2 separate regions of the Homo sapiens genome follow, and region 2 is linked to region 1. The links come from fine-mapping of genetic effects on gene expression. Tissue or cell type: whole blood. Region 1 holds a variant in brackets; the other region holds the start of a gene. All regions are shown on one strand. Distances are from middle to middle.

Evidence for each region. PIP is the estimated chance that this variant, and not a neighbour inherited with it, causes the effect.
Region 2: PDZK1IP1 starts here. The variant in region 1 is fine-mapped to the expression of PDZK1IP1 in whole blood (TOPMed, PIP above 0.99).

The regions. Positions count from the first base shown.
Region 1 is chr1:47,512,526-47,518,517 of GRCh38, reverse strand. No RefSeq gene overlaps it. Among named protein-coding and RNA genes, the nearest start is that of FOXD2, 77 kb to the right of the region's middle. The variant A/G (reference allele first, on the strand shown) is at 3,517.
Region 2 is chr1:47,187,881-47,193,336 of GRCh38, reverse strand. It overlaps PDZK1IP1 (PDZK1 interacting protein 1), which reads left to right and starts at 3,301. Exons shown (of 4, transcript NM_005764.4): 1 at 3,301-3,471. The coding sequence starts at 3,405. RefSeq lists an enhancer at 947-1,896 and a silencer at 2,726-3,020.

The DNA of each region.
Region 1 (5,992 bases):
TAATTTATAAACAACAGAAATTTATTCCTTATGGTTCTGGAGACTGGGAAGTCCAAGATCAAGACACTGGCAGATTCAGTATCTGGTAAAGGCTAGCTCTCCGCTTCAAAGATGGTGCCTTGCTATTGCACCCTCACATGGCAGAAGTTCCCTGGACCCTCTTTTATAAGGGCACTAATCCCATTCATGAGGGCTCTGCCCTCATGACCTAGTTACCTCCCAAAGGCCCCACCTCTTAATACTTAATGCCATCACCTTGGAGGTTAGGTTTCAACATATGAATTTGAGGGTGGGAGGGATGCATACATTTAGACCACGGCAATCTGAGTCTCAGGAGGTGACATCTAAACCGAAAGGAGAAGTAAGAGGTAGCTGGGTAGAGAGTGAGGGGAGGGTGTTCCAAGCAGATACATGAGTGTGAGCAGAAGCTAAGAGGTAGCAGGGCCAGTGGAGCAACACTGAGGGGACTGAGAAATGCTCTGTGTTGCCAGAGTAAGATGGGAGGGGGTAAAAGGGAGAGAAGCTGTTGACAGAAAGGCTAGAGAGGAAAGCATGGGCCTGCAAATCTTGTAATCAAAGAATCAAGGAACTATGGGAGCTAACCCAGGTTTCTGGTCCCAAATCCAGGAGACGGACCAGGAGGCAGATGGACAGCCAGTCTACAGCTCTAGAAAGATCTAGAGACAGATTGAGGTTTGTGTTGTTGATACATGGACTGTGGTTGGAACCATAAGAGAACCTGAGATCCCCAGCTGGAGAGACGACATGTGTAAGGATGATAAAGGTGAGATACCACTGTGGGAATGGCCATCATTTTCCAAACTCTCCTGTGGCCCACGTATTCTACCCCACCCCCAAGAAATAGGGGTCTTTATCCCCATTTTACACATAAGAAAACTGAATTTGGAGAGATTATTTGTGTAAAGGAACCTGGTGGTAGGTGGTGAGGCTGGGGTTTGTGCTCTACCTGTCTCATCCCAAAGCTTAGGCTTTTATGTGTACATGTTACACATTTAAGTGAGCTTCAGAACTGTAACCCAGGACTCCCACTATTGGTCAGAAGACAAGGTAATCTGTGACTCTTTGTCCAGCACTGTGCTTATCACGTGGTACCCAGCCAGTCAGCACTGAGGAGCTAATTATCCCCCTCCACATCCAGAATAGTTTCCCTGACCCCCCAGCCCACGCCTACCCCTCTGTCATCTCCAGATGCCTCTACCCAAGGTACTCTTCCAGGAAACACCACAGGATCACCCTCTAGTGAGGTGGTAAGCTCTTTGTCACTGAAAGCAGAGGCAAGAGCCCTGGGAGAGGCCAGGAGAGAGGTCTAGTGAAGTTCCTTCCGGAGCTACCCTGGGAATCTCCCTCACTCTGCCACCAAGACTGCACTGTGGATTGCCCTTGCCTCTCGTGCCTTTCCAGCTGTGGCTCATGTGGCTTATGGCTCCTAATCTTTAGCATTCTGGTGCTCCACTCCAGCTGAACAAGCCTCTCATCCCATCTTCCAGGGGCTAGCTCAGCTCCCATCTTCCAGGAAGCAGTCTTCAGATAGAACAGGGACCAGAAACACCCTGGACACTCACTATCTGGATTCTTCAAAATACTCCACCTTACACAGCCTCAGAGGCCATCATTAATCCAGCTCTCACTAAGCACTTTTGAGCCAGACTCTGGGACAGCTCAATGAGGAAAACAGCAGCCCTGCCATTAAAAGGTTGATGGTAGAGGGCTTGGGGACTGATGTGTAGATGAAAAATAAAAAGGCGGCCAGAAATGGTGGCTCACGCCTATAATCCCAACACTTTGGGAGGCTGAGGTGGGAGGATCACTTGAGGTCAGGAGTTCGAGACCAGCCTGGCCAACACGGTGAAACGCCATCTCTACTAAAAGTACAAAAATTAGCTTGGCATGGTGGAGGGCACCTGTAGTCCCAGCTACTCAGGAAGCTGAGGTGGGAGAACTGCTTGAACCCAGGAGGTGGAGGTTGCAGTGAGCCAAGATCGCACCACTGCACTCCAGCCTAGGTGACAGAGTGAGACTCCATCTCAAAAAAAAAAAAAAGAGGTTTTAATTGACTCACAGTTCTGCATGGCTGGGGAGGCCTCAGGAAACTTACAATCATGGTGGAAGGCACCTCTTCACAGGGTGGCAGGAGAAGGAATGAGTGCCAAGCAAAGGGGGAAGCCCCTTATAAAACCATCAGATCTCATGAGAATTCACTATCATGAGAACAGTATGGGGGAAACCGCCCCCATAATTCGCTTATCTCCACCTGGTCCTGCCCTTGACACATGGGGATTATTACAATTCAAGGTGAGATCTGGATGGAGACACAGAGCCAAATCATATCAATTACTCTGAAGGAGAATATGACATAGAGCAAAAGGAAGGGGCAGATGAAATGCCCTCAGTGCTCCTAGAAGCAGGTGAGAGGACATCAGAAACGGGGAAGGGATGAAGGAAGGCTTCCTGGAGGAGGTAGTATTGGGGCTGTACCTTCCAAGAGAAGTGTTTCTACAGGCAAAGAACAGGGTGGAACTGCATTCCAGGTAGCATGCAAAACATAAGCAAAGGCCCAGAGTTTGGGTTAAGGTCACTAGTTGGTGTAGCTGAAGTACAGGGGTTTGACTGTATTGGGGTCAATTCCAGAGATTTTATTGAACCCCATGTTAAATGTACCATGGCAACAACTCTCTTCCCCTCAGTTTCACCATCTATAGAATGAGGCCACTGGAGTCAGTAACCCCTGGGCCCCCTAGTCCCTCCAGAATATGTCATTCTGCAGTGCCCAATCTCCCAGGCTCCTAAACACTTCCACATGTCAACCCTGACCTGGCTCCTTATCTTTGCCTATACAACACAGCCGGCCAGCCCTGCTTCCGCTTGGATGGCCTCCCTGTGGTCCTGGAGTGTACCGCTATTCTAGGGCCACCAGCCAGGTGGCCCCCTCTCCAACAGAAACACAACACCCAGGGTGGTGGGTCCTATGGAAACATCAGCCATTTCCCACCATCCTTCCCTTTTCTCCTCAGGCCTCAGCAGAGCCTGCGGAAAACGTGGGTTTATTTGGGGTCTGCGGGATACAGAGAATGTTATCATTCTCAGGGAACTCCAAGTCCTGGTTTCACTGCTTATTCTGGCCCCTCTCCGTGGATGCTGCAGGCCTATCAGGCAAGGAGGTCTCCCTCCTGCTTTCATACCACCCAGGGCTCCCAGTTCCAAGAGAGGTTTTGGGTTTCAGATAAATGAAGCAAATGCCTAAAGGGGTAGGCAACATCTTTAACTCCTGGAGCAGAGGGCTGAGCAAGGCCGAGGGCTCAAGCTGAGTCATTCCCCATCATGTCCCCTGACCCCCACCCTCGCAGATGGCAGGAATTTGCTTTTTCAAACTGCAATCTGAGAATTCTAGAAGCTTATGATCTGTGGATTCAAGGATCTTCAAACTGATGGAATCTTAGGCTGCCAGAACCTTAAAAATTGTTGAATCTTAGACTCCTAGAACCATGAAATTCTAGA[A/G]TCTTAGGATCAGACCATTGTGTCCAGGAAAGAGATGGATTCCATGGCTTCCTAGCTATGTAACTTTAGGTAAGTGATTCAATATCTCTATGCTTCCATTTTCTCATCTGTAAAATTGGGTAATAATTGTACCTACTTCCTAGAGTTATTATGTGGTTTGAACGAGTGAATATGTATAAAGCACTTACAACACTGCCTGGCACATGGAAAGCACCAGAGACGTGACAGCTGTAGTTCTAAGATCACACAGCAGGGTAACAGCAGAGTTTGTGCTACAGTCCAGGTCCCTGGCTTCCCTGTCCAGAATTTTTCTGCCATTCAGCCATGCCACCTCTCAAGATCATTAGGAAAGGACCAACCTAGGGACCAGATAGATTTTCAATCATGGCCCAGTGGAGACCCTGCTTTGGAAATGTCCATGCAGGAGACAGGTTTCCCATCACTGAGAAATACAATGGGCAGAACCATGTTTCCTCCCAGAACAAAAAACTTTTGGCAGATGGAGTCAGTGAAAGCCTCTTGCACAATTTAGTGCACTCTCTCAGTGGGCTGACTGGGCTCAGCTAGGTGGTTCTTCTGCCCTACATGTAAGCTGAGGCTGCAGTCTTCAGGGGACTCAATTGTGCTGGAATACCCAAGATGACTCACTCATATGTCTGGCACCTTGTTGGGGATGGCTGGAAGGCTTGACTCAGCTGGGATACTAGGGCATCTAGGTCTCTCCCTCCCCAAGTATCTCCCTCCCTCCATCCCTCCCCTAGCCTCTCCATATGGTTTCTCCAACAGAGTAGCAGGACTTATTATATCGTAGCTCAGGACTCTCAAAAAGGCAAAAAGAGAAATTGCTGTGTCTTAAAGTTTGGGCCTTTGTGATAAGCAGAATTCTAAGTTCTCCCCCAAGAATCCCACCCACAGTGTACACACCTGAAAACATGTACAAAATCTAAAAATATGATGGAAAAGACACTCCTTTGATTAGGTTACATTATATGGTAAAGTGATGGCATAGATTACATTACACCATGTAAGACTCCATTATAATAGACTGGAGAGAAATTCTCCTGCTGGCTTTGAAGAAGTAAGTGCCATGTTGAGAGAGAACCATGCTGCTAGGACCTTAGGTCAGCTTCCAGGAGCTGAGAGAAATTGCCCAGTTAACAGCCAGCAAGAAAATGAGGGCTTCAGTCCTATAGCCACAAAGAATGGAATCCTGCCAGCAACCTAAACAAGCTTGGAAGAGGACTTATGAGCCTCAGATGAGATTGCAGCCCCAGCCAACACCTGGATTTCAGCCTGGTGAGGCCCTGAGCAGAGAACCTAGGTCTCACTATTGGGAGAACAGCACCAAGCCATTCATGAGAGATCCACCCCCATGACCCAAACACCTCCCTGCCTAGGAGTCATCTCCCAACACCACCACATTTGGGATCAAATTTCAATGTGAGTTTTGGAAAGGACAAACCATATCCAAACCATGGCACACAGCAATCCAGAGACCAGGGCTGGAGGCCAGGTGTCTGGACTCTCAGCCTACGACGACTTCCATTCGGCTCTTGTTTTTAGGTTGAGTGAATAAAATCTGTCTCCTCTGTCCCCAAAGGCAAGGCACTCATTTTGTCTTGGCCTTCTGCCTCTCCTGAGCTCCACCCTATCCTGGTTTTTTGGGGATTCTGAGGCTCACTTTTTACTCCCTGGGTCTGACACGTTAAAAAGAGAAATCAGGAGTCTCCAAGAACTAGACCCCAATACACCTTCACCTCCAGAAAAGGACTGACAGGGTGGAGAAACCTCCCACACACAGCCTACCCAAGACCTGGAGGTTTTGTGGACAGGTGTGCACTAGGAGCTGGAGTCCACCCTGGTGCAGATGTGAGACCTGAATCCCTGACCCACTCTGGGACCTTAGTTAAATTACACCCTGTCTCTTTTCCATTCCTCACCAAAAATGAGGAAAATGCCCTAACAGGTGAGATAAACCAAGTGAATGCCCTTTGTAGACCACAAAGGGCTGATTCCTTGAGCAGAGTTCTTCAAAAGAAAACTTTAGCTCCTGCTTACTGATGTATCGTCCCTCTCTCTCCAATTAAGGACCCAAGCCTCCCACCATTTCAGTCCCCTTGTTCATCTCCTTCCCTTTCTCCAGTGGAAATTCCCAGGAATTCCCAGTCCGAGGAATTCCCAGGAATTCTTATTCTTGACCAAATGTCAACTCCTAAGAAAAACCTTCCTGATCTTCTTGTCTAAAATATCATCTTCCTTCCTGCTGTCTTCTCCTGCTCTTTTTTAATAGCACTTATCAGTGTCTGAAATTATATTAGGCACTTGTTTAGTATTAATTTCCCACACTAGATGATAAGATTAGCAAGGACAAGGATCTGTCTGTTATTCACCACCCAAGAATTTGACAGGTAATAGTGCTCAAAAAGTACTCATTGAACAAATGAATGAATGGAATCAAGACTAAGCACAGTGCAAA
Region 2 (5,456 bases), 320 kb after region 1:
TCTGGCTAACTTTGCCTGCATTACCTCCTCCAGGATGCCTTCCTTAGCAATGTAGTCCACCACGCTGCCCTATGTCAGAGCCCTGAGCACTCCCTGTATGCTGTTCCCAGACTATTTACATGTCAATGTCCACCGTCCCTTTCTTCAGACCACCCCTGGAGGAGGGCAAAAGTGGGGGCTGGAGGGAGGGGAAGTTGCAGAATCTTCAGCAGCAAACTGGCTCCCTGCACGCCCAGTCTGGTATTGGAGCTAGACACTGCCACCTGCTGGCAGTGAGTGGAATGGCTGACAAGATGGGGTTGGGAGGAAGGAGACTGCTGGAAACAGTCCAGGCCCACTTTGGCTTTTCTGAAGGGCAATCGCATAAGGTCTGGCTGGATGGAGGGCTTGTCTAAGGGGCCTGATGGTTTTGCGTGACAGCTGGGCTGGAACAGGAAGGAGGAACTGAACGTCGATGGAACAGCTGCTCAGGACACACGGTGCAGCCCTGTGGGGCTGCTGAGACCTTAGTCCAGACCCTGGGCCCCAGCCAGACCAGTAGGGGGGCCCACCTTGTTACCATGGGGATCAGGGCTGTGTCCATACAGCTGGGGAGATGACCCTCCACCCGTGTGAAGACCTCCAGGGAGGAGGGACCAGCCTCAAAGCCAAGTGTCCACCCATGCTCCCTCTTTTCTGGAACAACTTGTTTTGCTCTAAAGCTTGGGACTTTGACCCAGGAGGTATGTTTTCCTCCTGTTGATCACCTGGTGTCCTTCCTGTTCATCCCCTTCCCCCACCACTCCCAAAGCATAGCCCAGGGGATCCTTTCCTTTCCCTGGGTTTTTCAGGGAAGTGGAGGATACTGGGGTGGGGAAGGCAGAACCTGGGACTTGAGTGCTGAGGGCACTGGTTGGAGGGGGTGGCACAGCTGTGACCCCCCCACCCTCCTTAAGTCTGTCCTTGCTTGGCTCCTGGGATACCCCACTTTCCTGGGGTTGCTTCCTCCTGTTTCCTCCTGCCCCTTCTTCCTTTGAAAGACCTTTGTGTGTTGGGGGCGTGTCTCCTTCTTTCTGTGCTCTCCCCTCAACACCCCTACCCCCGCTACACACACTGGGGAGACCATGAGCTCCCAGGCCTCAGTTACCATCCCTGTGCTGCAGACGGCTCCCAGATGTTCCACTCCAGATGCAGGGATTTTGCAGCCTTCCAGATGTCTCCCTCTGGAAAGTCCACAGGCACTGCAAGCATAATACCTCAAAATCTATAGCTCATTAATCCTCCAACCCCCCAAACTTGCTCTGGCCCCTACTGAGGCACTAGCATCTACCCAGCTGCCTACGCCAGAAACCTGGGAGTCACCTGAAGCCCTGCCTCCTGCCTGTACCCATTCTCCCAGCTTGGCACTGTGTTCCAGCAGCCACACCCCGGCTTCTCTACCTCCTCAACAGGGCTCAGATCTGTTCCCATGGGCACTTCCTGCCCAGGTCCAGGCACTGGTGTTGTGGCCACTGTAGCAGATCCCTGGATTTCTCTTCTCCAGCCTTTGCATGCCCCTTTCACTCTCCACACTGCATGGAGAGGTGTTTTCCCAAACGCAAAACTAACCATGTGACTCTCCTCCCTAAAATTCTTGGAGAAGGCACCAGTAGATGTTTGTTAAATTCAGCCCCATTCCTTACATTCCAATCAGTGATTCTCTGGCTGTTCATTAACATGCACAGTGCTTACTCCAGTCTGTGTTAGAAGATTCTGAGGACACCAAGTTGGGTGTGGGAGGGAGGCCAGGATATACATGTTTGGGAGGCATCACTCAACTCCAAGCAAAGTTCTCCCAGATCACCTTGAGACACTCCATCTTTGGATGGCAATGGGCCCGACTGCACACGCATGTGAACACACACACACACACCCACACACACCACACACACACACACACACACACACACACACACACACACACACACACACAGGAAGCAGGCCTGAGGCATGATGTCTGAGTGCTCCCGCTGGAGCAGGAAGGCAGAATCAACCTGCCATAGGAAGGGTTGCCCAGGAGGCCTGATGAATAGGAGTTTGGTGGCTTCAGGGAAGAGAGGCTGTGGAGGTGCCTTCAGCTCAGGTGCTGGCTCCTGGGGACCTTCCATCTCTGATGAGACTTTGTTCCAGTTGGCCCGCTCCTTTCTAGGGAGTCAGCATCTCAGCTTCCCATACTTCTGGGGTGGGGGGTGGGGCAAGGAGACCAGCATGACCCTTGGTCAGGGGCTTGCACAGGAACTCTGGCCATTCTCATTCCCTGAGCTGGAGGGCCAGGTGGACACCACGTGATCCTGGGGAGGCTTTTGCCTCTTCCGAGGGCTCTGGCTCCAGGGCCTCCCTGTTCCAGGGGCTAGGTGTGCCTTCCTCAATGCTGCTTTTGGCTATGAGGGTGACGGGCCCAGGGCTTCAGGGCCCCAGATCGCACCTTGCCATCTGGGGTGTCCGTCCTTTGTCCCCCACAGCAGGCTGTGTTTGCCCATTTTCTCCTCTGCCATGGGTGGAGATGGATCTGAAGTTGGGTGTTGAAGCCTCTGACCAAGGCTGTATCTTGTTTTGAGGCCCTGCCCGGTTTCCAGGGACCACATCTGGGGCCAAGAGGAAGAACCGAACTGGGACTAGGTTAGCTGTGCTGGGTCAGGGCCTGGGCATGGGCTGTGAAAGCTGGGGACTGGGACCTTCAGGCCCTCTATTGAGATCTTTGCAGAAGGGGGTGGATTTAGGAAGCTACTGGGCTGGGCCAGGGCGTGGAAGGCACTGAAGCCGTAGTGTGTCCCAGCATTAGAGTCCCAGAGTTTAGCTTGGCGGGGCAGGGGCAGGTGGTGGGGAGAACAGGAAATAGGCCAGGCTCTCGGCGGAGTCTGGCAGCTTTGAGCCTTCTCTGGGCTTCTGGGGTTTTCCCCAGGCTCCTGAGCCAGCCAGGACATTTCTTAATCCCACTGTCAGCCTTCCAAGAAGCCCCGCCCACTGGGCTCAGTCAAGGCAGGAGCGACTGTGTGTCACCCCTTTCCCTAGAATCCAGCCCCACTGCCAGGAAAAGGGAGCTCAGGGCATGGAGGTGAGGCTGGGACTCTCCCACATCTGCTTGTTCCTCATACCCACCTCCTTAGCTGGCCCCTGGAAGATGACCTCGAATGCCAGCCCAAGTGAGCTGGGCACCAGCCAGGGGAGGCCAGGTCTGGCAGCTCATTACCATGGGAGGGAGGGCACGTTCTCTCCGACGCCCGTCTTCGTGTCTCCTCCCTCCCTCGCCTTCCTCCTTCCTAGCTCCTCTCCTCCAGGGCCAGACTGAGCCCAGGTTGATTTCAGGCGGACACCAATAGACTCCACAGCAGCTCCAGGAGCCCAGACACCGGCGGCCAGAAGCAAGGCTAGGAGCTGCTGCAGCCATGTCGGCCCTCAGCCTCCTCATTCTGGGCCTGCTCACGGCAGTGCCACCTGCCAGCTGTCAGCAAGGTAGCTCAGGAGGAGAGGGCTGGGCACGGGAGACCCAGGGGTGGACAGGTGGTGTTCTGGCTCCCCTCCCCAGGGCCTTGATACTTACAGTTTGGAGGGGGAGCAGGGACTGCGCTAGCTGAAAGAATGTCCCAAGGCAGAGACCTCTGAACCAAGTCTCTGCCTGTCACTTGTTTTCAACGAGTGAAAACTGGCAGCAGTTGGTTCTAGGATCTCAGGGAGGAACAGGATTTGAGGCCCAAGCCCCAAGAGCAGGCATTGCCCAAGGGATGGCTGGGTCCTGAGTACAGGGGACCCGGGGGTACAAGTAGGGTGAGAGTGGGGCCCAAGCCACCCCTCAAAGACTTGGGCTTTGTCTCGGCCTCTTGGGCTTGGATAGAGAACAGTGCCCAGTGTGACTCCCCCAAATATCTGACCTCTTCGTCCTGCTCTGCCTGAATGGATGTGTGACCTTGAGCAAATCACTGCCCCTTCCTGAGACTCAGTTTTCTCACCTATAAAATGAGAACAATAAACCCCACCCTGCCCACCTCCCAGGGCTGCTGCCAGGTCAGAGGTGAAGAAGGGCTTTGCACCTGGTGAAGTAACTAACCCAAGGTCTGGCTTTCATTCTACACTGTCAGGCTGCATCTGCAGCCAAAGTCTGGGGACTCTGCAGGTGGGACTTGGTCCAGAGGGGACTGGCAAAGATGCTTTCAGAGCTCCCCTCCCACCCCCACCCCGAGCTCTTATGTGTGTCTGCTTCAACTCTGTCTCCCAGGTCTTGGAAGCCCTCTGGGGAACTGCAGACCAGAGAGGTTGAGTCACAGAGCACGGCAAGAAAGGACAGGGTTCAGACCACCTTTCTCCTGCCCCAGACACTGCCCCTTGCTGTATGTGCATGGGAGGAGGAGCAGGGACTGTGGTCCCTGGGGTGACTGGAGAGAATTGGCTGCAGGGTCTAGGAGGAAACAGGGAGGGGCCTCCAAGGGTTGAGCCCTAACTCCCCATGCTTGAGCAACCACTGACCTGAGGGAGCAGTCTGAACCCCTAGGGAAACAATGACTCCCAAATACTGCTTTTTGGCAGGTGTGGAACTGAGGGTAATCACACTGTGTGTCTTCTGCTTCCCCTGGAGATAAGTGAGGTCTGACCTCACTACAGGCCAGAGAGTTCCTAGCCTCCTTCCTCCTTCCCAATATTTGCCAGGCTCGGAGAAGAGGTCAGGCCTCCACTGCAGCAGGAGAGCTTTTGGTAGACTCAAAGGAGGACATTTGAGCAGGAGTGAGCCAGAGGAAGGTTTTCTCATGTCCAGCTTGGGTCCCTCAAAATATAGGGATGCAGGTATATTCTGGCCTGGAGGCAGGACCCCTCTGAAGCCCCCTGCTGACCTGTGTTTTGTCCTGGGACTTCTCCCCGCTGAGGGTCTTTTCTCTACAAGGCTGAGCTCCTGCAGGCTCATGGAGTGCAGTGATGCTGGGGAAGAGGAAAGTCCTTTGGGGAAGCAGAGGCCTGAAGGCAGGGACTTCAGGAAAATCTTGAGGGACTGTGTTGGTGTCAAGGGTCAAAAAGCAGAGAAGGGACCTGGTGCAGTAGCTCATGCCTGTAATCCCAGCACTTTGGGAGGCCAAGGCCAGAGGCTCGCCTGAGCCCAGGAGTTTGAGACCAGCCTGGGCAACGTAGTAAGACCCTGTCTCTATTAAAAAATAAAAAAAGTAGAGAAGGGTGCAGGTTGGGGCCTCAACCTAATCTCTGGCCCTAGTCCCTGGGCACCCAGCTGGGGGAATCAAAAGGAGCTCAGGTTTTGAGGCTTCTTTCCTGGTCCCCAAGACCCAGAGTAGAGTTCACCCCTCCATTCTGCCCTTCTAAAGATGTCCTGGTCCACTCCTCTCTCTGGGTACCCCAGGCACCCCAGATCTCCCCAGCTGAGCAGCCCTGAGAGTCTCCCACTCTCATACCCTTCCTACCATCAGAGAAACGTCTTGCTACAGAACAGGATCTTCTAG